Homo sapiens: one gene and its partners. The protein of the gene in region 6 purifies or fractionates together with the protein of the main gene of each other region. This does not show direct contact. Each region holds a gene or a part of one and is shown on either strand. Other genes may lie near its edges. The genes, in order: CCDC138, MYO5A, GRSF1, AMY1C, MOB2, RHOBTB1 and WDR43.

Evidence for each region.
Region 1: the proteins of RHOBTB1 (region 6) and CCDC138 purify together in Homo sapiens (affinity purification with mass spectrometry, with the first as the bait; one large-scale study listed by BioGRID). This does not show direct contact.
Region 2: the proteins of RHOBTB1 (region 6) and MYO5A purify together in Homo sapiens (affinity purification with mass spectrometry, with the first as the bait; one large-scale study listed by BioGRID). This does not show direct contact.
Region 3: the proteins of RHOBTB1 (region 6) and GRSF1 purify together in Homo sapiens (affinity purification with mass spectrometry, with the first as the bait; one large-scale study listed by BioGRID). This does not show direct contact.
Region 4: the proteins of RHOBTB1 (region 6) and AMY1C purify together in Homo sapiens (affinity purification with mass spectrometry, with the first as the bait; 2 studies listed by BioGRID). This does not show direct contact.
Region 5: the proteins of RHOBTB1 (region 6) and MOB2 purify together in Homo sapiens (affinity purification with mass spectrometry, with the first as the bait; one large-scale study listed by BioGRID). This does not show direct contact.
Region 7: the proteins of RHOBTB1 (region 6) and WDR43 purify together in Homo sapiens (affinity purification with mass spectrometry, with the first as the bait; one large-scale study listed by BioGRID). This does not show direct contact.

Annotation. Positions count from the first base shown.
Region 1 is NC_000002.12:108,845,205-108,849,840, reverse strand, and holds part of CCDC138 (coiled-coil domain-containing protein 138), read right to left. Parts: intron 3,104-4,636; coding exon 2,911-3,103; intron 1-2,910.
Region 2 is NC_000015.10:52,315,196-52,319,831, forward strand, and holds part of MYO5A (unconventional myosin-Va), read right to left. Parts: intron 4,148-4,636; coding exon 3,865-4,147; intron 2,028-3,864; coding exon 1,853-2,027; intron 1-1,852. UniProt on the Homo sapiens protein: Processive actin-based motor that can move in large steps approximating the 36-nm pseudo-repeat of the actin filament. Can hydrolyze ATP in the presence of actin, which is essential for its function as a motor protein. Involved in melanosome transport.
Region 3 is NC_000004.12:70,825,659-70,830,294, forward strand, and holds part of GRSF1 (G-rich sequence factor 1), read right to left. Parts: intron 2,379-4,636; coding exon 2,194-2,378; intron 588-2,193; coding exon 466-587; intron 1-465. UniProt on the Homo sapiens protein: Regulator of post-transcriptional mitochondrial gene expression, required for assembly of the mitochondrial ribosome and for recruitment of mRNA and lncRNA. Binds RNAs containing the 14 base G-rich element.
Region 4 is NC_000001.11:103,752,410-103,756,692, reverse strand, and holds part of AMY1C (alpha-amylase 1C precursor), read right to left. Parts: intron 4,115-4,283; coding exon 3,884-4,114; intron 3,145-3,883; coding exon 3,011-3,144; intron 2,195-3,010; coding exon 2,072-2,194; intron 1,979-2,071; coding exon 1,879-1,978; intron 1-1,878. UniProt on the Homo sapiens protein: Calcium-binding enzyme that initiates starch digestion in the oral cavity.
Region 5 is NC_000011.10:1,472,904-1,477,539, forward strand, and holds part of MOB2 (MOB kinase activator 2), read right to left. Parts: intron 1-4,636. UniProt on the Homo sapiens protein: Stimulates the autophosphorylation and kinase activity of STK38 and STK38L.
Region 6 is NC_000010.11:60,885,186-60,888,685, forward strand, and holds part of RHOBTB1 (rho-related BTB domain-containing protein 1), read right to left. Parts: coding exon 3,027-3,500; intron 1,046-3,026; coding exon 927-1,045; intron 644-926; coding exon of another isoform or gene 626-643; exon of another isoform or gene 1-625.
Region 7 is NC_000002.12:28,942,418-28,947,053, reverse strand, and holds part of WDR43 (WD repeat-containing protein 43), read right to left. Parts: intron 605-4,636; coding exon 555-604; intron 455-554; coding exon 275-454; 3' UTR 1-274. UniProt on the Homo sapiens protein: Ribosome biogenesis factor that coordinates hyperactive transcription and ribogenesis. Part of the small subunit (SSU) processome, first precursor of the small eukaryotic ribosomal subunit.

The DNA of each region.
Region 1 (4,636 bases), on a different chromosome or scaffold from region 6:
AGCAGCATGTACCTTGGCCCCAGGTAGTAGATGAACACTGGAACCCCACAGGTTTGGGCTCATAAGAAACCCTTGTGCCTAGGCTGGGAGAGGCCAGACTATAAGGAAAGGGAGAACTCTTGTATCTCTTCCTTGTTCCACAGTGATTAGTGTCAGATTTTTTTTTCTTTTTCTTTTTTGAGGCCACCAGGCTGAGGAGCCTGCAGCTTTAAAGGGTATCTGTTAGGCAGGAACCTTGTGAGAAAGAATCGTTCACAACAAGTGTGAAGGGAGACTAGAGAGTGAAGGCAGGGAGACGTGTCAGGGCCTGTCTGTGGTCTAGGGAGAGGTGATGAAGCCACTGAAAAGGTCATGGAGAGTCACCATGGGAGGCAGTATTCCTGAAATCCAGTGGCCAGGGTGTGGAGGAAAGGGATGGCACACATGTATCTAGAGGAGGCTAAGGAAAAGGGAATAGGAGTGACCATGAGCTCAGCTGGACATGCTCCTTGGATTTGTGTGTTTATAGTTTTCACCATATTTCAAAAATTTGGAGCCATTATGTCTTGAAATAGTTTTTGTCTCCCCTCTTCATAGACTCTAAGTACATAATATTAGAATATATGATTTTGTCTCAAAACTCACTGATGTTCTGTTTTCTTTTTTGTAGATTTTTTTTCTCTGTGTAATTCATTTTGGACAGTTTCTATTGCTATGTATCCCAGTTCACTAGTCGTTTGTCTGCAGTGTCTAATTCTCTCCAGTGTATTTTTAAATTTCAGGCACTGGGTTTTTCATTTGCAGAAATCTGATTGAAGTCTTTTTATCCCGTATCTTCCATGTATCCCCTTACCAGGCTCATGTTTTCCTTTACCTTCTTGAACACAGGGATATAGTTATAATAACTGCAGTAAAGACTTGTCTACTAATTCTATCATCTGTATCATATGATTTAAGATTCTATGTTCTTAAAAAAATGACTTGCACAGGGAAGCAAAGTCATTAATTCAATACATAATATGAAGTGCCAATTTTGATTCATTTCTGGACTTCCTATTCCCTTTGTCCTATTTTGATTTATTAAATAAATTATTACTCATTTTGTATCATTACATATTAGGATTGTTTTAAAGTTGGCTAAGCCTCTGCCCCAGTGTTGCTGTTTTACTTGTTATAAATCATCGCATTTGTTGCAAATTTTTCCACATAAATTTCCCTAACACTTCCTCAACTTACGCAAACTATATTAGAATTTTAACTGGTATTATACATTAAGCCATATGGGACATCTTATTTTTAAAACACTTCGTCTTCATAGGCAGGAAGAATAAAAGTTCTTTATTTCTGACATTTAACTTCAGCAATAATCTTCATCAACCTATTCATCCATCCATTATTTATCCATATTCTTATGCCCTGTTATATTTCTTTGAAAGCCCTCGATTAATACAGAGTCTCCACAAATTAACGGTCTTCTCTACTCCTTCCCAATATTCATACTTCATTTTTTCATGGCTCATTACAGATGTCCAAAACTGCTGCACACAAGTGGTGACAGAGAGCACCTAATTCCCTTCTATTTCACATAAATATCCCTTATTGCATTTTTGCTTTTCTTAGCATATTATCAGAAATGAACATTACATGTTATTAAATGATATAATGTATGTTGACATATTATTTCAAACATCTTAGTTAAATGATAAATGATTAATAATTTTTCTTATATTAAATTGGCTTCAAATTCTTGATACTAATATTATTTGATCTTTAGTGAATCTATGCTTTAATGTGTGGCTATGATGTGTCAGCTAAAATTCTTATTTAGAATCCATTTACCTGTGGGTATGTAAGCGTGTGTGTATTTTTTTTTAAGATTTGGAGATAGGTCTGTGGCGAACTTTATTTTGAGCTAATCCCTGCTTCTCGTAAGTGACCTTTCACACACTAACCACCTAGTCTATTGTAATCTTGAGAACCATAACCATAAGGAGGCAAAATAATTAAGAAGGCAGTTATATGGTTTTTTACTTTTTCATCAATTCCATACCATCGGGAGTAACTAAATGAAACATACTTCAAAGAAAGAAGTCAAATTAAATGACTGTCATTGCCCATTAATAAAAACAACAATCTGAGCTTAACAAAAAATTTAACAAACAGGGAAGACAGAAAGATGGTATATTTATTGCCTGACTACACTGGCATAACTCACTTTAACAAAAATTATCACATTTAATAATATAACCTGTTATAGCTAAATATTAAACACATATTAATTAGGGCCAACTTTGAAGGATTTCTAATTCATCCATTTCCTTATTCACTATTATATATGAAGCACTACACTAGGTGCAGGGTCATTATAAACAAGTTTTTTCTTTGGGAAACTTACAAGCTAGTGCAAGCACTGAAAAACATTTTCTGTAAAGGGCCAGATGACAGTATTATAGGCTTTGGGGGGCCATACAGTCTCTGCTGCCAACTACTCAACTCTGTCACTGTAGGGCAAAGAGTCATAGACAATATACAACAAATGAGCATGGTTGTGGGAGAAAACTTCATTTACAAAACAGGTGGTAGGCCAGATTTTGCCCATGGACTAGTTTACCAACACATTCGCTAGTGGAAAATAATTAACTAGCAATTTCAATTTGATGTGACAAATACAAATAGATGTAGGCAAAGGTTGTTATGGGAATATGACCTAAGACAATCAAAGGCCTCTTGGGAGGAGGCAAGAATCCAACTAAAGACTTCAATTTCTCAAATTCAGCAAATAAAAGTAGCTTTTTATAATGTGTAACCATTATAAAACAATTCAAAACCTCATTCTGAAAATGTACAACATATTTGATAAAAGAATTGCTTTAATATATGATATTCTCTATTGTTTCTCAAAATTAACCATAAGTACAATTGAAAGCTTACCTTGAGTGACTGTTTTGAGAACAATTAAGGTTGATAAAAATCTCAATGGCAAATTGGAGCTCTTAAAGAAAGCAGCTGTCTTTGGTTTATTCTCCACAGAATGCTGTGGAGAATTATCCTGAATTCCTTTAGTTACCACTCCTTTAAAAATGTCTTCACCCAATCTCCTCAATGTTGATGTCATAGTCGAGTGCTGTTAAAAATATGTACAATCTTAGTATATTTATTCATGTTCAGAATATATCTTTTTTTTTGAGACACAGTCTTGCTCTGTTGCCCAGGTTGGAATGCAGTAGCGCAATCATGGCTCACTGCAGCCTCAAACTCCTGGGCTCAAGCAATCCTCCTACCTCAGCCTCCCAAGAAGCTGGGACTACAGGCACTCACTACCACACTCAGGTTTTTTTTTTTTTTCGGTAGAGATGGGTCTCACTAAGTTGCTGAGGCTGGTCTCGAACTCTTGGGCTCAAGTGATCCTCCTACCTTGACCTCCCAAAATGCTGGGATTACAGGATCATGAGCCACTGTGCCTGGCCAATAACTATTTTAAATATTAAATCAAATATATGTATTAAAAGTAAGTGAAATCTGTGGCTAATTTAAAGTTGAAAATATGTAAAATTGGAAAGTGACAATTTTATCAACTTAAAAAATTATTTGTGACTGTACATTTTTCTAAAACATGTAAGAACATAAGATCATGCTATATTTCTGACACAGAGAAATAGCAAGGGAACAGAGGTGGACTACCTACTCTCTCAGTTGCTGATTGCTCCACCATCAATGAAAACCAGCTTATCAGGCACATCCTTCTGTGTTCACTTAAGAAATGATTATCTAGAGCCTCAGTCCCTTCAGCTAACTCTGATTTAAAAAGTCATAGTGACTCCAAAAACTTTTAGCAATTTCAAAACAGTAAAATACTGGGTTAGAATCATAGATAATTCTCATGGAGAATAAAACAAAAAAAAATGGGCAAAATAGAAATAGTAGCATGAAACTACCTCTAAAATAATATATGATCTAATGGTATTTGATATATCTATTAAGAATAAAATGAGGCTGGGCGCGGTGGCTCACGCCTGTAATCCCAACACTTTGGGACGCCGAGGCAGGCAGATCATGAGGTCAGGAGATCGAGACCATCCTGGCTAACATGGTGAAACCCCATCTCTACTAAAAATACAAAAAAATAGCCAGGCGTGGTGGCGGGTGCCCATAGTCCCAGCTACTTGGGAGGCTGAGACAGGAGAATGGTGTGAACACGGGAGGCGGAGCTTGCAGTGAGCCGAGGTCGCACCACTGCACTCCAGCCTGGGTGACAGAGCGAGACTCCATCTCAAAAAAAAAAAAAAAAAATCAAATGAAAGGAAAGCATTTCAAACTGTTGCAGATCAGAATGCTTAAACCAGATTTGGTAAAAACTTAAAATTTCCTTTATTATGACCCAATTCTCCAATCTCATGTGACTGAGTTTTTATAGCAGTTTCCCCTATCTGCATGAAAATTTGTGACCAACTGGTTCCTAACTCAGTATTGATCCTGCAATGTGGATAAGTTTTAGCTTTTAAATTTCTGCATCTAAAATTAAAAACAAATCTATTGAGGTTTTACAGGTGACAAAGGCCAAATGGTTGAGTGGTCAGACACACAAGCAGTGCAATCTAATTTAAATATATTGTCAGTACAATTTTTATATTATTAGAAAAAAAATACATGTTTTTAA
Region 2 (4,636 bases), on a different chromosome or scaffold from region 6:
TAGAAGTTGAATGGCAGCCAACTTCTATAAAGTTGGGCTTCCTCCAGGGTATTCTTACTTTCCACACTTGCAGAAACTGGGAGGAAATCTCAGGACCATTGTTCTGTCAGATAGTTCTGCTTTATTCTTAGTAAGAAGTTATGCAAACATGAATTCAACATTAAGAAGCTGCAAGTCTTGATTCTGATTGTCTACTGATTGACTTTTTTTTTTTTTGAGATGAAGTCTCTGTGCAGTGGCACAATCTTGGCTCACTGCCACTTCTGCCTCCCAGGTTCAAGTCATTCTCCTGCCTCAGCCTCCCAAGTAGCTGGGATTACAGGCACCCGCCACAATGCCTGGCTAATTTTTGTATTTTTGTAGAGATGGGGTTTCACCATGTTGGCCTGGCTGGTCTTGAACTCCTGACCTCAGGTGATCTGTCTGCCTCAGCCTCCCAAAGTGCTGGGATTACAGGTGTGAGCCAGCACGCCTGGCCTACTGATTTTTTCTGTTGCCCAGGCTGGAGTGCAGTGGTGCAATCTTGGCTCACTGCAACCTCCGTCTCCCAGGTTCCAGCAATTCTCCTGCCTCAGCCTCCAGAGTAGCTGGGATTACAGGTGCCTGCCACCATGCCCGGCTAATTTTTGTATTTTTAGTAGAGATGGGGTTTCACCATGTTGGTCAGGCTGGTCTCAAACTGATTGAGTTTTAATTGTATTGGGCAAAACTGAAAATTTCATATGTTGTAGGATATATGATGAACATTAAGAAAGTTGGCTGGGCACTGTGGCTCACGCCTGTAATCCCAACACTTTGGGAGGCTGAGGCGGGTGGATCATGAGGTCAGGAGATCGAGACCATCCTGGTTAACATGGTGAAACCCCATCTTTACTAAAAATACAAAAAATTAGCCAGGCGTGGTGGCAGGTGCCTGTAGTCCCAGCTACTCCAGAGGCTGAGGCAGGAGAATGGCGTGAACCTGGGAGGGGGAGCTTGCAGTGAGTGGAGATCATACCACTGCACTCCAACCTGGGCGACACAGCGAGACTCCGTCACAAAAAAAAAAAAAAAAAAAAAAAAAGAAAGAAAGTCTAAGAGTCAGCACAGAAAATAACCGGGCAAAAGAAAATTGGGCATGTTCATGCCTGTGCCTTGCTTCATGCTGTCACTATAATCCTCAAATGCCCTTCTCATTCTTCCACTTCCTTAAATTCAATGCCCAGATTAATGGGACCTTCCCTGAATACTGCTATCTTCCCTCAGTACTTCCTTTAGGCATCTTACTACAGAATTTGCTAGAACCTCTACGGTAGAGTCAGTTGGATACGACTCTGTCTTCCCTACTGAACTGTAAGCTCCTTGAAGGCAGGAATTTTTCCTTATTTATTGAAGCATCTTCCCCAGCAATAAATATGGTGCCTTGAGATGGAGGCTTAATTAATCATCTGTTGAAGTAACAAGAATTATCTGTCTCTAAAAACAAAGTCACTATTTGATAATCCACTCAATTATCAAATAAGATAGAAAGCTATTTTATGGAATATAAGCTGCATAGACTGTATACTCCATGAGAGCAGAGACTTTGTTTTGCCTATGGGTGTATCCCAGTGCCTTCAATGTTATATAGAACACTGTAAGTACTCAATAAATATTTGCTGAATATTAAATATATTTATACTGTAATTAGCACTGAAATGTATTAATTTCTGGCAAAATCTCCTTGCTTTAAGATTGGTAGAGGCATATATCTTCTTGAACACAGATGAAGTCAGCTCAGAGATACAAGCAATAAGTAGAGGACTTCTTTACTTCCCTAAAGATCATCTTTGATGAATGTTAAATTATTTTGTAACAGGGAAAGTTGCTCTACCTGGGCAGTAGTTAAAGCATTGCACATAGAACAAATGGCTTCTGCATCATCATCTGTTTTCTTTTTCACTTGCAAAAGTTGAGCAGCCTGAATGAGAGGTTCCAGGGTTTCTTTAGCCCCACTATTCATCAGATTCTTGTCACGCAGCCATTCTTCCAGTTGACTGACATTGTACCTATGAAAAAAAAGAGATACAGAGAATGCAAATTTGCTGAATTTTGTCAAAAATGTCTTAATTTTTTTGTGTGCGGCCTTGTCAGGATTTATGTTAAAATGACAGGCAGTATTTTTGTTCAATTTTCTTAAATCTCATCAGCTGTGCTTAAAAATTTATTATAGTCATGAGGATTATAATCACCATTATATAAGACTAAATGACAAGATAATGTAATTCTCTTTAATGGAAGATGGAAATGAAGTCATTATGGCAAAAGTTATTAGACTTGCTAATAAACAAAATAGAATAACATAATGTAGCTCTGTCTTTATTGGGGAGCTGGCCAGAAAACACTTTGTAGCTTCTCTTACAATTTCAGAGCTGGGTTGCTGTTGCAGGGTGAGACTTGATAATCCTTGAAGCACTCTCTCTTAAGGCAAACTCCAAATCAGGTAACTGAATAACCAAAAGCCCCACATATACCTGTGCTGAAGCCTTAAGGGAAGAGCCTAGGAGATGAAGATGGTGGCCTGAGAAAGCTCCGGGATGAAAGGAGAGAGAGGCAAGGGAGGGCCACTGGAAGAGACAAAGACTCCAAATGGTGACAGAGACAAACTACAAAGACATTGTAGGTTTCACAAAATAGCCAACCAAGTGGCAGCAGTCCTAAGACTGAGGTCAATAGACACACAATCAGCACTTAGCAACCAGGCAAATAGGGGCCAGCATAATATTGCGACAGGTGGCTCCACATTTCCATGCAGAGCTTATAGAGAAATATGCTCCACTATCTGAGAGGAAGGCATTATTGTCTTAAAATTCACTACACTTCAATGTAAGTCAGGATGGAAAATTTGAAAAGAACACTAACAGTTCCTGAGATTGAGTAACTACTAAGACTTTGATAGGAGAAATCATTTTTCCCTCCTCTTGGTGAATATTCTAGCTGTTTTAAAATAAAAAATTTGTGGCCCAGCACGGTGGCTCACACCTGTAATCCCAGCATTTTGGGAGGCCGAGACAGGTGGATCACCTGAGGTCAGGAGTTTGAGACCATCCTGGCCAACATGGTGAAACCCTGTCTCTACAAAAAATACAAAAATTAGCTGGGTGTGGTGGTGCATGCCTGTAATCCCAGCTACTTGGGAGGCTGAGGCAGGAGAATTGCTTCAACCCAGGAGGCAGAGGTTGCAGTGAGCCGAGATGGCGCCATTGCACTCCAGCCTGGGCAACAAGAGCAAAACTCCATCTCAAAAAAAAAAAAAAAAAAAAAAATTTGCAAAAAAATTATGTTACAATAATGAGGTTATGCTGAGGAGTATTGGGCATAAAATTAAGTGCAGCTTTTCTTAAAATATAGAGGGGGGATATTTTAAGAATTAGTAAAAGATCTATCAGACCTGTTCTTGTTGCCATAGGTACAAAAAGGTATTTTTCCAAAAATATATTTCTAAGAGCAATCAAACATTAGAAATCTTCATTATTATAATTTAATAATTTCTTATTGTATAATTAAAACACACACATAAGGAGAGGAAGCAGCTATCTCATCTTTGTGTATTTTTGCATCATCTCTTCACTCCCCCAAATAAGCAAGCTTCACAGTGGAAAAGGGTTTCCTATCAAGAATGTGAAGAACCTGTTGGCAGGGTACAGACAGGGAGCAATAATGAGATGTGGTGAAATCCAGCCAGGCAAGGGAAAGTGGCTCCGTGCCAGTTTCTCCCTTGCTGCTTGGCCACATGGCACCAGACATGAGATGCAAGAACTGAAAACAAGTCATCAGCTCTCCACAACCCTGGCAGGCCAGCTGGGCAGCAAAAAGACACTGTCGCAGGTGTTGGCATTTGCTCACCTGATCTGCATGCCTTTACTCCAGGAGCACATGTCCTTCCGCAGGAGAAGGTTGTTCAGGGTGATGGCCCCTATGATGTAGAACATCTGCTTGACCACCTGCTTGATCAGTTCAGGGTCCATGCCATGCTGACACATGACCGAGTGGAAGGAGTTGAGCTGCCGGAGGATGGAGTCCAGTGTGTAGGTGCCCTCATCGGCGATACTGGAGGTTCGCTTTCTCAACCCTGTGGGCTTCACCCCAGACACGCCCTGAATCGTTTCATGTTCCAGCATGCCTGAGACTGCAGGAGTATTTCAATTGTTAGAGGAGATGATGTGGAAGGGAACCTTTCATGTGCACATATCCATGTGCACAAACACATGCACATTCAACTTAGGAAAATTAGCTGGGCACGGTGGCTCACATCTGTAATCCCAGCACTTTGGGAGGCCGCCGAGGTGGGTGGATCACTGGAGGCCAGGAGTTCAAGACCAGCCTGGCCAACATAAGGAAACCCCGTCTCTATTGAAAATACAAAAATTAGCCAGGCGTGGTAGCGTGTGCCTGTAATCCCAGCTACTCAGAAGGCTGAGGCAGGACAATCACTTGAACTTGGGAGGCAAAGGCTGCAGTGAGCTGAGACCACATATCTGGGCTCCAGGCTGGGTGACAGAGAGAGACTCCATTTCAAAAAAGAAAAAAATGATCTGGGTGCCAAAATAGAGGGAAAAGGAACTTCACTACAAAAGGGCTTCCGGATTTTAAACTTTACTGAAGGAATAATTCTTAA
Region 3 (4,636 bases), on a different chromosome or scaffold from region 6:
TGGTGGCTCACACCTGTAATCTCAACACTTTGGGAGGCCGAGGACAGTGGATCGCTTGAGGTCAGGAGATCAAAACCAGCCTGGCCAACATGGTGAAACCCCATCTCTACTGAAAATACTAAAATTAGCCGGGCATGGTGGCGCCTGCCTGTAATCCCAGCTACTCGGTAGACCAAGGCGGAAGAAATGCTTGAACCCGGGAGGCAGAGGTTGCAGTGAGCCAAGTTCACTCCACTGCACTCCAGCCTGGGCGACAGAGCGAGACTCTGTCACAAAAAAAAGTAATACCAAGCCACACTTTTCAGCTACAGAAAAAGAAGCAAGCTTTGCAACCAGGAAGATGCCATCTTACTATCCAACGCAGAAACACTATATTTTCTTCTCTACCTTCCCCAAATTAATACAAGTTCAATTTTAGAACTTTTGTTCAAATCTATTGAGATTGGATATCTTACTGCCACACACGTTTATAATGTCTTGGGCATTGGCTTGGAAAGGTAATCCTCTCATGTGGACAAAATGCAGAGAAGACGTAGTTCCAAAATCAGCAGCCTCTGGAAGCTTTTCTGGCACCTCCTTAGGCAATTCTGAGAGGTGGAACAGAAAGCACTGTTAAAACATAACAGCTTCAAGGGTTATTAACAGATTCTAATTAGGTATGACTTTTATGTCCAAATCCTCAATTCCTCTTAAGAGCATTAAAAGCCAAAATGATCTGAAATTTCTGCCACTCAACAAATATCACCTGAACACCCATAAGCACTGAATGCCTCAGACCATTACCAGTTTAAGAACTTAGCCCTTTTTGTAACATCAGAGAGCAGGTAAAATGATTATGAATTAAACCCTAAAAGAGACTTTCTAGATTATAGGCACTGAAAAAAAAAAAAAAGAACAAAGGCTGGGCGTGGTAGCTCACACTTGTAATCCCAACACTTTGGAAGGCTGAAGCAGGAGAATCACTTGAGCCCAGGAGTTCGAGACCAGCCTGGGCAACACAGCCAGACACTGTCTCTACAAAAAATAAAAATAAAAATAAGTTAGCTGGGCATGGTGATGCATGCCTATAGTTCCAGCTACTCAGGAGGCTGGGGTGGAAGAACTGCCTGAGCCCAGGAGTTCAAGGTTGCAGTGAGCCATGATTGTGCCACTGCACTCCAGAATGGGCCACAGAACAAGACTTTGTCTCAAAAAACAAAAATATATATACACATATATATAGTGACAAGATAATCCCAGGGTACCAGTTTAAAAAGTATTTATGAAACTTAAAAGATTCCAAATGTTGCCCTGGGTTAGGAATCAAAGAAATAATTAAATCCAGAAGCAAACAAAAATCCTTACTTCAGGCGGGCACAGTGGCTCATGCCTGTAATCCCAGCACTTTGGGAAGCAGAGGCCGGCAGATCACCTGAGGTCAGTAGTTCAACGCCAGCCTGGCCAACACGGGGAAACCCCGTCTCTACTAAAAATATAAAAATTAGCCGGGCACGGTGGCAGGCGCCTGTAGTCCCAGCTACTCGGGAGGCTGAGGCAGGATGATGGCGTGAACCTGGGAGGCGGAACCTGCAGTGAGCCGAGAGTGCGCCACTGCACTCCAGCCTGGGCAACAGAGTGAAACTCTGTCTCAAAAAAAAAAAAATCCTTACTTCAGTCAATATTCCTGCTCATTATCCAAATCTTCCCCCATCTTAATTTAAATGTTGACATCTTACTTCCTTTTATCACATTTTTACTACCCAGCTTTTGATATAGTTAATAAAAATGATTAAATTAAAAACCTAGCAAAATAATTAAGCCTTTCTGCATATACTCAAAGTATGTAAAGTCCTATTAAATCTTTAGGCCGGGTGTGTTGGCTCACACCTGTAATCCCAGCACTTTAGGAGGCTGCGGCTCACTTGAGGTCAAGAGTTCCAGACCAGCCTGGCCAACGTGGCGAAACCCTATCTCTACTAAAAATATAAAAATTGGCTGCGCGTGGCGGCATGCGCCTGTAGTCCCAGCTACTCAAAGAGGCTGAGGCAGGAGAATCACTTGAACCCAGGAGGTAGAGGCTGCAGTCAGCCGAGATCGCACCACTGCACTCCAGCCTGGCAACAGAGCGAGACTTCATCTCAAAAAAAAAAAAATCACAAAACCCAAAACATTCAAGATAGACCCAATGAGTCTCAAGAAGAGGCAGGACCTTACCTATTTCCTTCTCACTTTCAAAAGCTGTCATGGGTTGAATATCCTCATTTACTTCATGTTCTTCAAAGACCATTTCTGGCTCAGTTATATACTTAGCAGTAGGAAAAGATGCGATTTTCTTTCCCTTATAAGAACCGACATGTGTTCGAACTTCATTCCTTCTGCTTGGAAATATCTCGATGTATCTATGTCAAAGCAAAAGTAAACAGGCACAAATGGTGCAAAGTAACTTTATACTGAACTCATTTAAAATAAACATGTATACATTATATTTCCAACAGCTTATGAAACACAGGTGTCAAAAGATAACAGGTAGGGAAAACTAATAATGCATACAGATAGTAGCCCATGAAAATATACAACAGAGTAGGTCACTGATTTAAGTTTTTGCATCAAGGTAACACTTTTTCTTCACATACATTTTAATAATATTTTCTACTCTGTTTTGCTTCATGAGAACAACTATGCTTAAGTTAATTGTGTATACAGAAAAAATTAATCTCATAAGGGTTTTTTAAATTGCTGGTTAACAATCTCTTGAAGCTCTGAAATTCAATTCTGTGCAAATTAATCATATCTGTATAAGATATTAAAAGTCACAGTAAAAGAAGAGCTAACTTCCCCAGAACTTCACTAAAAGGCTGAGAATTCAAGAACTAAGTATCAATTATGACTTGCTATCACAGGAGGGGACTATCTATTAAACCCAAGCTTCTGGAACAATTTTTTTTTTTGAAACTTGGGTTTCTTGCTGTCACCCAAGATGGTGTGCAGTGGTGTGAACATGGCTCACTGCAGCCTCAACCTCCTAGGCTCAAGTGATCCTCCTGCCTCAGCCTCCTGAGTAGCTGGGGACTACTGCCACCTGCCACCACACACTGCTAATTTTTTTTTTTTTTTTTTGAAGCAGAGTTTTGCTTTTGTTGCCCAGGCTGGAGTGCAATGGCACGATCTTGGCTCACTGCAACCTCTGCCTCCTGGGTTCAAGCAGTTCTCCTGCCTCAGCCTCCTGAGTAGCTGGAATTACAGGCGCCCGCCACCACGCCCAGCTGATTTTTTGTATTTTTAGTAGAGACAGGGTTTCACTATGTTGGCCAGGCTGGTCTCAAACTCCAGACCTCAGGTGATTCACCTGCCTCAGCCTCCCAAAGTGCTGGGATTATAGGCATGAGCCACCATGCCCAGCCCACACACTGCTAATTTTTTTATTTTTTATTTTTGTAGACATGGGTTCTTGCCATGTTGCCCAAGTTGCTCTTGAACTCCTGGGCTCAAGTGATCCTCCCACTTCGGCCTCCCAAAGTGCTGGGATTATAGGCATGGGCCACCGCGCCCAGCACAGTTTCCTTTTTCTTAACATGGCCTTCTAAACTAAGAGTTATAAAACTAGCTTGTGTTTACAAATCTATAAAGATTAGATGAGCACTACTTCTTTAAAAAAAAAACCTTTGAGCCTGGACAACAAAGTGAGACACCATCTCTACAAAAGTTTTTTTTTGTTTTTTTTTTTAATTAGCCAGGAGACCAGGTACAGTGGCTCACACCTATAATCCCAGTACTTTGGGAGGCTGAGGCAGGTGGATCACTTGAGCTCAGGAGTGTGAGACCAGCTTGGGCAACATGCAAAACCCCGTCTCTACAAAAATACAAAAATTAGCTGGGTGTGGTGGCATGTATCTGTAGTCCCAGCTACTTGGGAGGCTGAAGTGGGAGGATTGCTTGAGCCCAGGAGGCCACAACTGCAGTGAGCTGTATCACACAACTGCACTCCAGCGAGGGTAACAGAATAAGACTCTGTCTAAAATTAGCCAGGCATGGTGATGCATGCCTGTGGTACCAGCTACAAGGAAAGCTGAGATGGCAGGACTGCTTGAGCCCAGAAGGTCAAGGCTGAAATGAGCAGTGTTTGTGGCACTGCACTTCAGCCTGGGTGACAGAGCAAGATCCTGTCTCAAAAAACCAAAAAACCTTTGAACCACTTCTATCAGTAGATCCTGAAACACTGGCTTTGGAATGGCTGTTTTGTTTACTTCAAAGGAGCTGATTTAAAAGGCCAGAAAACAGTAAAAAAAAAAATTAACGAAACAGTGATTTAACATTTGACATTTTAAACTGTACCTCCAAAGTTAAAGTTAAAACACAAATGAACCCACTTATCATCATGTGCATCCTGAGGTGATGTCAACATGAGATACTGTACAAGACAACTGATCTAATTTCTTCAAAAGTCAATTGCTTTTAAAAAGGGGGGAAGAATAAGTAAGGGGGATTTGCTCTAGTTCAAGAGAATCAGTGGTCAGGTGCAGTGGCTCACACCTGTAATCCTAGCGTTTTGGGAAGCCAAAGCGGGCGATCACTTGAGCCCATGAGTTTGAGGCCAGCCAGGGCAACACAGCAAGACCCCACCTACAAACACACACGCACGCACGCACACACACATACA
Region 4 (4,283 bases), on a different chromosome or scaffold from region 6:
TCAGTGACTTTATCTAGAATCCAATGCCTTCATTGATTTTTATAGCCCTTTACTGGGTCTTCATCATCTCTCTATCCTCTGGTTCTCTTTTGCCATATTTCAAACAAAGGTAGCAAATTGTTATCCTCTCCTTTTCATTCCAAGGCACTGCAAAGACTTCTTTGCTCTGTCACCCAGGCTGGAGTACAGTGGCATGATCGTAGCTCACTGCAGCCTTGATCTCCGAGGCTCAAGCGAACCTCCCATCTCAGCCTCCCAAGTAGCTAAGACTGTTGGTGTGCACCACCGCACCCAGCTAATTTTTTTTTTTTTTTTAATTTTCAGTAGAGGCAAGGTCTTGCTAGCTTGCCCAGATAGGTCTTGAACTCCTCAGGTCAGCTGACCTTCTCAGCTGGCCGCACACAGTGCTGGGATTATAGGTGTGAGCCACTGCACCTGGCCTGCAAGGGCTTCTTAACATCACTGTAAGCCATGCAATGGCATTGAAATGGGAAGGGCATTAGTACTAGAAACACCAGGATTAAAACATAGGCTCTATTACTAGTAGCTGAGAAAATTTAATCAATATAAATAATTTCTCTGTGTCTCAGTTTCCTCATTTGTAAAATGAGAATAATGAGTTCTTTTGCTATAAAAATTAAGTAATATATGTGAAAATGCCTTGAACATGACATATGCTAAATAAATATTGGAGGCCGTCATGCTTCTTTTTAGATAAATGTACAAAATACTACATCTGAACATTTTTTTTTATAAATTGACCATATTTTTAGTATTATGCTTTTCTGATTGGCACTTTAAGAAATCTTCATTAAAAAACACAGAGTAACCCTAGGAAGTTTATCAGTGTTCACCTTAAAATCACGTCATATGGTGAAAAGTGAACAAAACTTAAGAGTTTATAGCATGCAGCAGTCCTGTCAAAGTGGGAATGTTATAGTAATAGAAAAAATAAAAGAACTCTCTGACTCCTAACAACAGAAATAAGACCAATTAGTAGAAATTATAAGAAGTTGTCTCAATATAAAAGTACACCTTCTAAATATTAAAGCTGTTTAACAATAGAATCAGTTGTTATACATAGTAGCGGACTTCTCAAACTGAAAGGAATCTAAAAAAAGCTAGCTAGATATCTGTGTGACTCATAGGAAGGAGGAATTTCTGCTTTAGTTCTGAAGTCTCTGATGCTGTTTCTCAACCCTTTAGTTTAAAAGAAAACCTTCTACTAGCTTTCCAAATATCTTTACACTCTTATTTCTCTGTTCCTTTTTGAAACTACTCAGCAGAGTGATGTCTTTACCATACTCCCAAATATTTTTCTCATTCTTACCTTTCTTGGAATACTCTCTATAAATTTCTATCCTTTAGTACATACAATTTCCTTCCTCTTATAGTATACTTTCCCTATTTAACTCAGCTGAACTGGATCATTTGTTTCTATACCATATAACTTTTTAACAGTATTTAAAAGACATTTATATTGTTCTCACTACGGGCAGATGATGTTTTAAGTTCTCTACAAGGGTTGGCATCTATATTCTTCCAATTAAACCTGAGGAAGGTACGAAGTATATATTTTAATCCCTGTGCCTAGCTCTTATTTTTAAGTGGTTTTTTTAATTTTTATTTTTATTTTCCCTGCGGGCTAGGGGGATGTTTGTCATATCTCTGAAAAAGCTTGCTATTCTTTTTCAATGGAGAATATAAAGTTTATTCCTTTAATATAACCTGCATTACTAAATCACAACCCTGTATCAGGTTTACAATAATTAAATATTTGTTGAATAAATAAACACTTAATAGTTGTCATATTAAATTAGGAGAAGATTGCCTCTTTTTTCTTGAGAAAAGGATATTTTGAACAACTCCAAAACTTACTTTTCCATTTTCAAAATATCTTGGCCAACGGTAGCTTGACATTACTCGTGTAAATCCATAAGGATGAGCAAGCATAAATCCAACTGCCATTTTGTACAGCCTGAAAGTTACATAATTATATTATCATAGAATATCACAATATTCATACCATCATTAAAAGAGGTGTTAAAAAATAGAGAACTTGGTTTTCTACCTAGCATCCCAGAAGGTAAGTATAGAGGCTCCTCCAGCGCCATGTCCTCGTTGATTGTCATGGTTATCCACAAAGACAAGCGCTCTGTCAGAAGGCATGAAACCCCAACCTTCTCCCCAGTTCCTATTTTTGAAACATAAGATATACGTTGATGTATCATTTCACAATAGTTTGAGAGTAACTCTACTGTGCATCTCTTTCTGTAAGGCATGGCATCTGAAGATTAAATTCTTTCTCTAATTAGATGGTTACTCTGTAAGATATATATATATACACACACACACACAAACACACACTCACATATATATACACACACACCTCATAAACAAACACACGTGTGTAATCTACATATATATAGTCCATATTTGTATATACATGTATGGAATACTTATATTCATATTACAAATATAAAATGTTTGTTATTAAAAAATTTCCTTTCAGAGGTTTCAGCACATTATCATTTAGAGGCACTCCAGAAGGATCAATATCCACATCACATTATACAGAATGTCAAACTAGATTAAAATAAGGCTTTAATATTGTATTGTTATAATATAAATCATTTTACATTTCCAATTCGTATAAGTAAATACAATAGCATGGACACTTTGTACATACTTTATAAATGATAGGATCATTTTAATAATAACCTGGCTTTAAAAGATTATATGCAAACATCAGTCAAATCCAGTATATTCATCTTGTACGCAGACAGAAACTCCTAGGGTAAGTTTAGCGTTCCTAGGCATACTGTCTTGTGACAGACACTCTAAATACAAAAGATGATTGATTAGAGTTTAGGGCACTAGAATACTTATCATTAACAACTGACTCCTTAATAGTTGTCTGAATAAGAATGTTCCAGAAGATAACTCGCACTGGGGTAGTATGACTAACAGATCTATGAAATAGTTCAGGGGAAAAGTTGTATTTATTTACTTTAAGTAAGACATCTTCTCTCCATTCCACTTGCGAATAACTGTGCCGAGTTTTGCACCATACTTGAATTCTGTCACCCGGCCATTACCAAAGTAGTCACTGCTTTTAATTGGCTCACCACCCAGATCAATTACCTAGAAGAAATTTAGGAAAAAAAAACATTTTGCATAAGGACTTTAAAGCATTTTAACCGATAAGTTTATATTATATAAAAATTAGCTTTCAGCTATTTCTGAGTTATTTTAGACTTGTTGTGCTTTGTTCTTTAGAGACAGGGTCTTGCTATATCGTCCAGGATGGTCCCAAACTCCAGGCCTCAAGGAATTCTCCTGCCTCAGCCTCCCAAAGTGCTGAGTTACATGCAAGAGCCACCACGCCTGGTCCTATTTGTTATATGAAACGCTCAAAATCGTTTTCTTATTCTTATTATCTTCATCGGTAATATTCTTATATTCTTTTTTTGATAAAGTATACACTACAATATTGAAAGAAACATAATGTCAAAGTTACCTGTTGTCCTGTGAGAATACTTACCTAATTTTTAGTCTTGTACATCAATGATAATAATAACAGCTCACAGGAATACGATATTTACTATCTGACTGACTTTTTTTGATAAATATTAACTCATTTCATTTTCCAAAGAAAATAAAGACATAACTATTATCAGTATCCTACATTCTGTGTACCTCCATAAAACCTGTTGTGATAAAGAATTAGATATGCTGTATGTGAAGAAGAGGAGGTTAAAGAACACTGTTTTAAGGAAATGACTCAGTCTTTATCCTACAGAAATTGCATTTTTAATTGAATCTGCCGTGAATTTTCTAATGAATAGGATGATATTTTATATGCCTATATGTATTGACGTACCTCCTGGTAAATGAAAGGTTTACTACCTTCCGGGAACCAGTTACTGTTTAGATTATGCAGTTTGTCCAAAATTGCCTTTATGTCTCCAGGCCACATGTGCTTGGAAGCATCAATTCTGAACCCTGCAACACCAATGTCAATGAGATGGTTCATATATTCGGCAATCTTAGAACGCACATAATCCTTCCCCAGTGCAAGATCGAGAAGACCAGACAGACGACAATCTCTGACCTGTTGAGGTAAGAATGTTATGATTGATTAATAAAACCTCACTTTTCGCCTGAGAATCCATTTGATTATTCATTTATTCCATGATTCCTCAAGAGATATTCTATGGTGACTTCCTTGCATTGGACACTGGGGATGCTCACATTCTACTATAGATGTATCTTGGAAATAT
Region 5 (4,636 bases), on a different chromosome or scaffold from region 6:
ACCCCTCTGCTGTGTCCAAGAAGCCCCTCAGCCTGTGCACTGCAGATCCCGGGGGGAGTCACCAGAGTTACCAAGAAGCTAGAGGATGACACTGCAAGCCCTGCATGCTGGCACCCTGCCCTCTGCAACAGAAACAGCCATCAGGCCACCTCCCAGCACCACCAGGGCCCTAGGACAACCCCCTCCCAGCACCCACCTCCAGAATGCAAACCAGGAGCTCTCATGTGTGCCCTGTGCGGGGCTGACTCAGCCCACCCGAAGGGGAAGTGCAGCCCCAAAATGGACAGGCCATGAGGACGGGGATGCAGTGCCCACACCTGCCTCTCAGGTGCTGTCCTCCCCCTGGGACAGCTCTGCATGACCTTCACGCCCACCTTCCCAGGCTGCAGGCCTCACCGTGGGCATCGCCACCAGGCTGTCAGACCCTCTGAGAATGCAGAGACAACAGTCCTTTCAGCATCTGCTCCTCGAGAATGATGTAGAGGACGCACGTATCCCCACTGTCCTGGGGTTCCCAGATGGTGTAGGGGAGGCCCAGCCCCTAAGGGCCAGGCTGAGGCCCATGTTTCCAGGGCGAGGACCCAGCCAGGATGGCTCAGCACTCTGCAGGAGTCAGACACTGGCTCCAGGTACCCTGACACTGCAAGCTGACATCTGATGCACCTGGCCACAGGTGTGCGACAGGTCTCAAAACAGTGGAGGTTAGAGACGGAAACCCTTTTCCACAATGCAAACCCAGAGAAAGCAGTAACTCAGGGACACTGTGGATTGTCCCATCTGTTCTGAAAGATGGAACACCACTGTTTCCTGTACTTCTTCAATTATCAGTAAACCGTTTCTGGTATATAGTTCTAAGATTTTTATCCACATGTGGACTCACGCATTCATAACCACAATCAGGACACGCGGCGGCTTACGTGGCCCCTCACACCCGTGCTGCTGTGCCCCCAGCACCCCGGGGATGGCTCCTCAGGGATGGGCCGCGGGAAGGAATCGCACCGCGCGGATCCTCCCGATCTGGGCCCCTCTTGCACGGAGGCCCCTGGGATGCAGTCACGTGGCAGACGTGTCGGAAGTCCACGGCTCCTCACTGCCCAGACACTGCCCCTGCAGAGATGGACATGGCGTGCTCATCTATTCACCTGTGTCCCTGCCAGCAGAACAGAGTCCCAGGTGGCCACATCCTGGCCAGCACCAGTGTCCCGACCGGCATGTGGGCAGGTGGACATGGGTCTGCCCATGGTTTCGGCTTGCCTTTCTCTAATTGCTAACAACACAGGATAGCCCCAGCTGCCATCCTTACACCCTCTTTGGCAAACTGTCTGCTCATTTCTTTTGCTGACAGTTAACTGGACTGTTTTGTTTTCTTACTGCTGAGTTGTGTATGTTCTTTATGTATTCTGGATATCAGTCCTTTGTGGGATGTGTGATTTGCAAATGTTTTCTCTCCCAGCCTGGAGTTTGTCTTCTTTCTCTTAAAAGTGTCTTGAAGCAAAAGTTCTGAATTTTGCTGCCTAGTGTCAGGTCATAAGGATTTCCTATGGTTTCTTCCAAAAGCTTTGGAGTTTTAGATGTTTGCACGAGGCATGAGGGATAGGTCAGCGTTTGGTTTTTGACACAAATGACTGCTTTTCCCAGCAGCATTTTTGAACAGACTACCCTTTCTCCCTTGAATTTATTTTGCTCTTTGTCAAAACTCTGATGGCCCCGTTTGTGTGGGTCTATCTCCGGACTCTCCATCCACACGTTTGTGTGGGGCTGTCTCCGGACTCTCCATCCACACGTTTGTGTGGGTCTATCTCCGGACTCTCCATCCACACGTTTGTGTGGGGCTGTCTCCGGACTCTCCGTCCACACGTTTGTGTGGGGCTATCTCTGGACTCTACTGTGTTCCATGGAGCTCTGTATCCATTCCTTCAACACTGCACACTGTCTTAATTACTAGAGTTTCACAGTAAGTCTCAAAAGTGTGAGATTCCTCTTATTTTTTCAAAATCATTGTAGCTATTTCAGTTAATTTGTCCCTCCATATAAATTTTAGAACTAACTGGTCTATACTTGAACTCTGCTGGGATTTGGATTGAGACTGCACTAAATCAACAGATCAGTTTGGGGGAGAATTTGTGTTTGGAGTCATCTTCCAGGTGATAAACGCAGTGCGTCTCTCCATTTATGTAGACCTTCGATTTTCTGTAACAGCATTTCGTAGTTTCCAGGGTGCAGATCCTGGGAATGTCTTGTTAAGTTTATAACTAAGGATCGCATTATTTTTGGAGCTATTATAAATGGCATGTTAAATATTAATTTCAGTTTTAAATTTCACATTGCTAATATACAGACCTATGACTGATTTGTGCGTGTTGACCTCACTAAATTTATATTATTATTTGCTACAATCCTTGAGGTTTTCCCAATCACACGTGTGCACAGGGATACAGCAATCCCCCCCATCCACAGGGGATGCACTGCAAGACCCCCAGGGGATGCCTGAAGCCACAGAGAGCACCAAACCCTATATATGCTGCGCTTTCTCCTATACATACATTACTAAAATAAAGACAGGCAGACTTGATTGATTGACTGAGATAGGGTCTCGCTGTGTTGCTAAGTTAGTCTCGAACTCCTGAAGTGATCCACCGCCTCAGCCTCCTGAGTAGCCAGGATTACAGGTGTGAGCCACCACACCCAGTGTAATTCATAAACTGAGGACAATCAGTTGCAGTGAGTGGCTGGGGTCGCATATCAGGGGGTCCCTTGCTGGCCTCCTGCAGGCTCAATGGCAACACGCTGCTGCTCCCATCCTCTCACCTCCTCCACCCACAGATCCAAGTACTCAACACGCACTGTGGCTGTCACTTTTGCAATTTCAGATGTAACAGCGAAATTAAAGGGACTTTTTTTCCCTTTTTCACAATTTCATAAAGAAGAGATTTGTTCTTACCTTAGATCTTAGCAACCTCACACACAATCTGTTTCTTTCTAGTCAGGAACTTTCACCTTTTCATCTTTAGGTCAAGGAAGTGCTTTCTGTCTTCTCTTTGGCATATCTGAATTGCCAGCATCACGCTCTTGCGCTTTGGGCCGCCTCATGTCACATAAGAGCAACCTGAGCACGAGCACCCTGGCACTGCGGCAGTGGATCCACACGGGGGCCGAGGCACAGCTGGGCCGAGGGAGGAGGAGGCACACCTGGAGCAGGACGGTGGAGACCGCATCACACTGCTCAGAACAGCATGCAGTTGAAAACTTATTAACTGTTTATTTCGGGAATTTTCCATTAACTATTTTCAGACCATAGTTGACTGTGGGTAACGGAAACTGTAGATAAGGGGGGCTTATTGTTTTATTTCTTTTCCAATTTGGATGCCTTTTATTCTTTCTTCTTACCTTATGGCACTGCCTATCTTAGGCGAGTTCTGATATACTGCGCTTTCCAAAGAGTTGGTCCATTTAACCCAAGCCATAGAATTCATGTGCACAGAGGGTTTTTTTCCAATACTTCCTTATTATCCTTTTAACATCCACTGGGTCTACAGTGATACTCCTCTTTACATCCACAGGGTTTAGTGACACTCACTCCTTTTTATTGATCATTGCATCTTCTCTCTTATCTTTGTACCTACTAAAGGCTTACCAATTTATTACCTTTCAAAGTCATCACATTTTGATTTCACTCATTTCCCCTATTGTTTTAAAAATCAATCTCAGTGCTTTCTGTTCTTATTTACTTTCTTGTCCTTGATTTTGACTTATTTTGCTCTTTTTCTAGTTTAAGTTGGAAACGTAGATTACTGAAAGTCATCTTCTTTTTCTAAGAAAGCATTAATCCTATAAATCCCCTCTAGGCACTGCTTGAGTTATGTCTCACAAATTCTGACATGCTGTATTTTCCTGTGTACAGTTTGTTAAAGTTTTTTTGTTGAGGCATCCTCTCGGACCCATGGACTACTCAGAATTGTATTAGTCTGCAAGTGTTTGGAGACTTTCCTGTTCTCTGTTACTGATTTCTAATTTAACCCCACCATGGTCAGAAAACTTACTTCGTATGGTTTTGATTTTTTAAAATTTGTTAAGGGCTCTTTTGTGACAGGTATGCTCCATCTTGGTGGCTAATCTTTGTGAAGTTGAAAAGATGGGTGTTCTGCTGTTGAGGCTGCAGTGCATGTGTCATTTCAATCCAACCCACGGGTGGGGTCATCGGGCTCCGTGCTCTCGCTGACTGTCTATGAGGCTCCATCACTGAGGAGAGGGCTGCAATCCCCGGCGATCATGTGATTTCTACACAGGCCGTCCGTTTGCTTTGTGTGGAAAGCCCTGTTGTCTGGCGCACACACATTTATGGCAGGATTTCTTCAAGAGCTGCTCCTTTTCTAATTAGATAACCTTCTTATTCCTGGTCACTTCCTTCCTCGGAGTCTCCTTTGGCACTGACATAGCCACTTCCGCTTCCTTCTGATGGGTGTTTTCTCAGCACATCTTGTCCTCTTACTTCTCACCCGCCTGCACCACAGCACCTAGAGTGGTGTGACACACAGGGTGCTTATGCCCCACATTCCTATGTTGAAAGCTTAACCCCAGACGCAAGGGTATCTGGAGATGGGGCCTTTGGGAGGCGATGAGGTTGCAAGGGTAGAAC
Region 6 (3,500 bases):
TCACAAAGAAATGGTAAACATCTGAGGTGATGGATAGGCTAATTAACCCGATTTGATCATTCCACAGTATATGTATATTGAAACATCATGTACCCCATAACTATGTATAATAATTATTATTTGTCAGTTAAAAGTAAAACAACAAGAAAGACAAAGACACAGGGTATCCAAGATGCTGTTTGCTCTTCTCTAAGCATATGTCTCTTCTAGAGATAGAGCCAGGGGCTGACAAGTGATGTAGCTGCTTCCGCTAGACCTAAGTACCTTGAGAGGTGTGTTCAGGGGAGTAAACATTTGCTCCATTACTGTTGCCCTAAAGTTAACAAACCCTCATATCCCCTCAACACAGGCAGAGTCAGGGCAGAGCCTTAGACAGTATTGTAGCACATGGTAACCTGAAGGACAATCTAGTGCATCCCTCAGCTTGCAGATGAGGAGGTTGAGGCACAGGAATGCGGCTTCTCAAGGTCCCCTGTCTGGTTAGGGGCATAGCTAAGCCCAGGACTTAGGTGGCTGAAGAACTCTTTTCCCTTTCTGAACTACTGGGAGACATGCTCCTCTTGTACTTGGTTTTGATAGTACCATGCCTGGTGACATTTGCCAAGAGGTACAGCTGATCTTGTCTTCATGGATGAGGACGGCTCTGAGGATGAAAAGATATATGGCATGTAAAGCACCCAGGTGCCCCCACACCAGTGACCAATAAACAATAGCTCCTCAAAACTGCAGATCTAAGAAAAAGGTGACCAAACCCTCAAGCACTACTAAGGAGCAATAGCTCCTTATGATTATGACTAACAGTATGATGACCACTCATGGAGCCAGTTTAAGGATTAAAGTCATCTGGCTGTTTACCCACTTTATATAAATACACAGGCACACATACATTCATAAAGACACCACTATGCTTTTAGGAAGGCACGTACCTCACTGTTGGCACTTTCCACAAATGACCCCCCGAACATGGCTGCCATCCACTCACAGCTACAGATCAGCAGCGGCTTGTGGGCACTGATGGCTCCATCGTCCAATTTAAATGTCACGTCTGCCAAGGGATTGAGGAAACACAACCATGAGCCAACTTTGCTGAGAGCTTCAACCAAGGCTTCTGCTCCCATAGCCACCAAACTGCGACTCCCTTACTCTCTCTTGCATGTCTTTACTTACTGATTTTATGTCAATCCCCATCTTTGAGCTTTGACACACCCAGCTCCCACCTAAGGCAGCATGCTGTATTTGACATCATCACACATAAAGTCACGGCACAAACTCTCTGAACCAGAAAGTAATAGAAAGGAGGGAATATTTTTTCCTCCTTGCTATGCAAAACTTCAAGCATATAAAACAGTGGAACGAACAGTATGATGACCACTCATTTATCCTTGTTAACATTTTGGCATGTTTGTTTTACGTATATTTTTAATTTACACCATTTTACTTATTAATACTCAATTAAACCTTACATTTATAATATGCTCTACTCGTATGCTATACCAAAATGTAACCGAATTACTGTTTTTTTTAAGAGATGTGGGGGGGGGTGGGTCTGGCTATGTTGTCCAGGCTGGATTTAAACTGCCGGGTTCCAGCAATCCTACTGTCTCAGTCTCTGAAGTAGCTGGGACTGTGGGCAAATTAGCCACCATGCCTGGCTATATGTGTATTTTTGTATAATTTTGTGTATGTGTATAGACTTTTTTTTTTTTACAGATAGCATGGCACTTCACTCCTAACTACCTTATCACAAGTTTTCCCAAAATAACAACAGTCTCCTAAATAACCATACTATGATTACACCTAAGAAAATTAAAAATAATTCCCTATTATCATCCACTATATTGTTCATATTCAAATTTCTCCAATTATCCCTAAATCGTATTTCATAGCTTTAAAAAAAAAAAAACAGAATCCAATTGAGACTCCCACATTGTATTTGATTATTATGCCTCTCCAGTAAGGAGGAGGTGATTTAATCAACTCTACCTAAAGCTCACTGTTTAAGTTACTGTAGGTTTGTAACATATTCTTTTCATTAATTTTCAAGACTGTTTCTGTAACACAATGGCCAGTGTTTGAAGTAAATACTACTCATAAGCTTTAAAATGAATGAACTGAGTCTTTAGGAACCACTTACTAAATGTGTAATGCCCTGGCAGGGATTATAAAAGATAAAGACAAAGGTAGAGGTATCCATATAAATAGAAGTCAGGAAGTCAACATTTTACGATGAAATTACACACACCCACACACCAGCCCAGAGAACAATTTCAGAACAAAAATAGTCCAAGTGTAAGACAGTACAAGCATGGGTCAATAACCCATATTGGATGCGGGCCACCAGCATGCTTAACAATTATGAAAGGGTGCTGCGGGCAGCATATGGCATAGTTATCAAAGGCAAAGGAGGTGCAGGAAAACTACAGAAGTGCAGGGCCAAGGAGCATGAGGACGGAAAAGGAGAGGGGATGGAAACAGATGAGACACCCCTTGTAGGAAGATGGAGGGCCACCAAAATTGCCTCAAGGACTTTAGTGGCCTCAGGACTTGAGATCACTGATTTTTGTCATGGGTCAGTGCTGAAGGGTCAATGGAGAATAGAATTGGTCAGAGAATAGATTCTGAAGGGGAATTGTATGCAACAAGCCCACTGGAGATAGGCTTGGGGTCCCTGATCCACTCTTGAGGAGCAGTGTGGTACCATGGTGGTTTATGGAACAGGTTTTGATACCCACAAGAGCATGGGTTCAAATCCTGGCTCTACCATTTATTGCTGGTGTGACCATGGGCAGATTACCTAACCTCTCTGTCCCTTGGTTTCTCCACCTGCAAAATGGAGACAATCATATTTAACCTTTAAGTCTGATGAGGATTAAAGAAGTTAATGCCTGTAGCTTAGAAAGGTACATGGGAAAAAATAAGTACGTATAAATGTTAGCTATCGTTCTTCTTTCTCCTGCTCATGTCTGGCTAACGTTCAATGAAACACAATCAAAGGTATTAATGGCTCTGCCCCGCGGCCCACTCACCCGAGAACGTTCCCTTGCTGAGACACTCTTTTATCCGATTGGCTTTCCTTACGTGAAAGGCTTTCGTAATCTCCTGGTTCATGAAGGCTTCCTTGTTCATGATGTTTTCCACCATCATCCTCAAATCGAACATCTCGAGGACCTCTGCGATCTGAGCCAGGCCCACCAAATCCTTTTCCTTTTCATCCAGTTGTCCCGTATAAAGAAACTGGAGCAGGGTCCGAAAAGGGCCTGGCTGGACTGAAGCGTCCATCCTGACCACAGTCATGGGCCCCATCCGCTTTGAAATGGGGTTGACTTGCATTTCCCTGTGCATGCCAATGAACCCCTTACTCCATCCGGTCAAAGTCTGTGTCTCAGGAACTGCACCCTCGGCTTCCAGCCCCAGAGCCTCCACCAGGCTCTTGTTTGAAGACTTCCACTGGTCGGCCTGAGGAATCCTAGGCGGGCCCTCCTCCCTTTCTTCCTCTGGGT
Region 7 (4,636 bases), on a different chromosome or scaffold from region 6:
TATATTATAAAAATATACCATATATTGGACACTGATGTCAGTACATTGCAGAAAATGTGTCTATATACTGTGTAAAGTTTATTAACATTTGAATGAAACACTCTTATTTACACAGTCAAGTCTGGGGTGCTCAGGACAGCAAAGTGGCATGGGATCCACTGCTGTGAATTTGGAAATGTGCAGCGGTCCTTGGCATCCTGGCACAGAGGCAGCCCTCACCACTGGGCAAGGTGAGCCAGAGTTTATATAGTTTGACCGGCTTGCTTTGCTGTCTTCATTCTTCTTCACTTTCATTTTCAGGATCTAAATCAGAATCTCCATTTAATTCTTTTTCACTTGCTGTATCTCTGTCCTCGCCATTTTCTTCATCTTTTCCTTCGGCATCCTCATCTTCCTCTTCAACGTCCTCATCTTTTTCACTTTCACTCTCCTCCTCATCTTCATCCCAATTATCCTAGTCGAAATACCAACAAGGAAAGCATTCATGAAGGTCTCATTCTTACAGAGTATGAGGATATAAAGGCCGATGTATATACAGGGAACAAATCACTCACTTCAGAATCCTTATCTGCTATTTCATCATCAGACTCCTCTTCAGAAGACTCTGTAAGGGGAGAAAGAACCCAGCCTTAATTTTAGAACAAAACAGAGGGTACAGCCTGGAAATTAAGCAGAACCAGATTCCTGAATTTACTTTTAGAAATATTATTTATATTTAGCAATCATCCAACTAAGAAATAACATTATTTTATTATTTTTTTTTTTTGCAGGCTGGAGTGCAGTGGAGCAATCTTGGCTCACTGCAACCTCTGCCTCCCAGGTTCAAGCCTCAGGCTCCTGCCTCAGCCTCCTGAGTAGCCGCCACACCCAGCTAATTTTTGGTATAGACAGGGTTTCACCATGTTGCCCAGGCCGATCTCAAACTCCTGGACTCAAAGGATCCGCTCACGTCTGCCTCCCAAAGTGCTGGGATTATAGGCATGAGCCACCACACCTGGCTAATTTATTCTTACATGTATAAAAGTATATTCATTATATTATTCCTTCAAGATCTCACCGGTCCAAACCAACTAGCCAAACCCTTACAAAAATCTCATCTTTAAATACTAAGCCCTATCAGGGCCACCAAATAGCCCCAGTGGATGAGGAAAAATTCAACACAGAAAAGCTGGCTTATAAACGAAATGGAAGAATTAGCATTATTTAACCCATAAAGTACTAATAATGAAATATTAGCAACTGATATATTAGATGTATGATTGTTGGGGGAAAACATGCAAACGTTAAAACAAAAATTAACACAGCTAGATTATTTTCTAAGCACTAAGGAAGATATATCTCACAATGGAGAGGAAAAAACTGATAACAGGCACAATGTGGTTCTTAGTGTGCTGCAATATGAACGATCAGCATTGATGCAACCCTCCAAAAATAAAATCCAATCAAACCTTTAGGCCTCACATCCAGTTTAAAGGAACTGTAGCTTAGAGGAGCAAATTAAAAGAAACCAAAAGGAAGCAAATCCACAAACATAAGGTGGGGCATTCTGTGAAATACACTTCCCAGTCTCTTCACCAAGTCCATGTCATGAAAAAGGGAGTTCTTAAAGACTAAAAAGAGTCTTCAGAAACACAGTAGCCAGATTCAACCCCATGATGCAAAACTCGAGTCTAGTTTGGGAAAAACAGCTTTAAAGGATATTTTACGGATAACTGGAGAAAGATGAAGATAAACTGGGCATTGGATAAAACTAAGGAATTGATTTCATTAGGTGTGCTAATGTTATCCAATAATACAGAATGGGATTCCTATTTTTTTAAGATATTCTAACATTCTTCTTCTATCTACTTTTTCTTAAGAAAATAAATCATTATCTCCAGATGAAGTTCCCTTACATGCCCATCTCCCTAAGCCCATTCCCCAAAAGAAACCACTATTGTGAGCTTCTCATTCTCCAGTATGCTGTTATAACACATACATCATACTACCCATGAATTACACATGTACATATTCATGAAAGACATATGCAGCAGTTCCCCCAATATGTGTTCCTTTTCCCCAGTTTCAGTTTCCCCTGGCAACTGCAATCCAAAAATATTAAATGGAAAATGTACCAAATCCAGGATCCCTAAGTTTTAAATTGCGCCCTGTTATGTGCAGCGTGATGAAGTGCCGTGCTATCTGGCTCCGCCTGGCCGGAGAGGTAAATCATCCCTTTGTCCAGCTTCGCTGTCTACACTAGCCACCCGTTAGTCGTTTAGTAGCCACCTCAGTTATCAAATCGAATGTTGCAGTATCGCGGAGCTTATGTTCAAGCCACCCTTATTTTGCTTACTAATACAATTACACGATGCTACACAGAAGGTATCATTTTTTGACTTGGTTTTGTAATCAAACTTATGCGTGTTAACTCGATCTCAACTCCAGGCACTCTCACCAATGTAGTGTTATGCTAAAGGAATAAACCATTTTAAACATGCTCCCACTAATGAAGAATTATGTTGTTCACAAGTCTTTTTCTTAATTATAAAGGCTGCAATGAACATACTTATATAATCTCTACATATATGTTTTAAAGCTATGTTGTCAAGCCTTTTAGCCTTAAAATGCTTTCACATTCTTAAAAAACTGAGGTCTCCAAAAAGTTTTTGTTTATGTGGGAAAAGTCTATCTATATTTATCACATTCAAATTCAATTTTTAAATTTAAGAATATTTAATCTGTTTACAAATGCCCATCCATTACATGTTAACACAAATCAATTTAATGAAAAACAGTATTTCTGTGCTCTCTTCGGCAGCACATACACTAAAATTGAAAAATGGAATTTCCAAAACAACAACAAATTCTACTAAGTAGAATGGCACTATTAAAAACTTCTCATATCTGCTTCTCCACTCTATTTTTTGGATATGTTGTTTTATTTGAACTATATGAAGAAAATCTAGCCTCCCACAGATGACCGATTGAAAAGCGGAGGACATCATGAGCCGCTCAAAGAGTTCTGGGCATCCCCACAGGTCCTCTGTTCATACTTGGAGAAGTATTGGTCACTGGGATACACACAAGCACTTTGGGATCACTTTGGGACTGCACTTGATGAATGGAAGGATATGCAAATTGTCAACTTTGAGATTACAAAGTTGCTCTCTAAAAAGAATGCACATGTACTCCCACCACAGCATGAGCTCCCATTTCCCAAATCATGGCCAACACCTGACCATTTTCACTCTTTCAAATTTATCCATTTCTCACAATATGGAATGTGATGTGTGATGTGATAATGGTAAAATTTTTTGTTCCATATAAATTATCAGTGTTTCTAACAACTTACTGAGCAGGCTATCTTCTCCACAATGATACAATACACACCATCAATAAACACACCAAGAGTCCACAGAACTACGGGTTTTTCAGGGGTAGCTATTGCCAATCTATTGGTCTAGCTGTCTATTATTGCACATTAACTCTGTAACCCTACACTTCTATAATCAATTTGCTACTCAGGGTATTTGAGGATGATCTAAAATGTTCCCTTTTTGACATTTCCAGGTTTTGTTATCAAGATTATACTTGGCTCATAAAATGACTAAATTGCCAGTACATGACAAAAAGGACAGCCCAGTGTTGTGGGTCATGCTTCTATTCCCAGCACTTTGGGAAGCTGACGCGAGAAGACCGTTTTTGAGGCCACGGTGTACAAGATCAGCTTGGGCAACAAAGAGACCTCATCTCTACCTTTAAAAAAAGAAAATTGGCCAGGCATGGTGGCTCAACAGTCCCAGCTACTCTAGAGGCTGAAGCAGGATGATCGCTTGAGTGTAAGAGTTTGAGGCTGCAGTGAGCTATGATTGACCTCGAGCCACTGCACTCCAGCCTGAGCAACAGAGAGAGTCTGTGCAAAAAAGAAAAGAAAAGATTTGTTCTTTGAAGGCCTGATCAAATAACCTTCAAAATATCTGGGCATATCTTGTGAGAAGTTTTATAAAGTCAATTTTAGAGCTACTGGCTTTTTCAAACTTTTTATTTCTTTTAAAGTCAATTTTGGTCATTAATGTTTCCTTAAAAATTAACTATACCACCTAGACTTTTAAATGTATTTACACTAAGTTTGTTCATATAATGTTCTTCTATTTAAATATTTTCCATACCTGGCCAGGCATGGTGGCTCACACCTGTAATCCAAGCACATTGGGATCACTTGAGCCCAGGAGTTTGAGACCATCCTGGGCAACATAGTGAAACTCTGTCTTTACAAAAAAATACCAAAGTTGGCCGGGCATGGTGGTGCACGCCTGTAGTCCCAGCTACTCAGGAGGCTGAGACAGGAAGATTGCATTGAGCCCAGGAGGTTGAGGCTGCAGCAAGCTGTGATCACAGCACTGCACTACAACCTAGGCAACAGACTGAGACTGTCTTAAAAAAAAAAAAAAAGAAAAGAAAAAAAAAATCTTCCATAACTAATGCCCTTTTTTGTCACTGTATTATACTTGTGCCTTTTCTTTTCTTATCTGATGAATTACAGATTTTTGCCACGGACTTGCCTATTTTAATTAGAGAAGGCTTGCCAAAGGAAGATCTTATGTTGACGTTTTCAAAAAGATAACAGAACTCAGTCACTGAAAACTGAATGTTA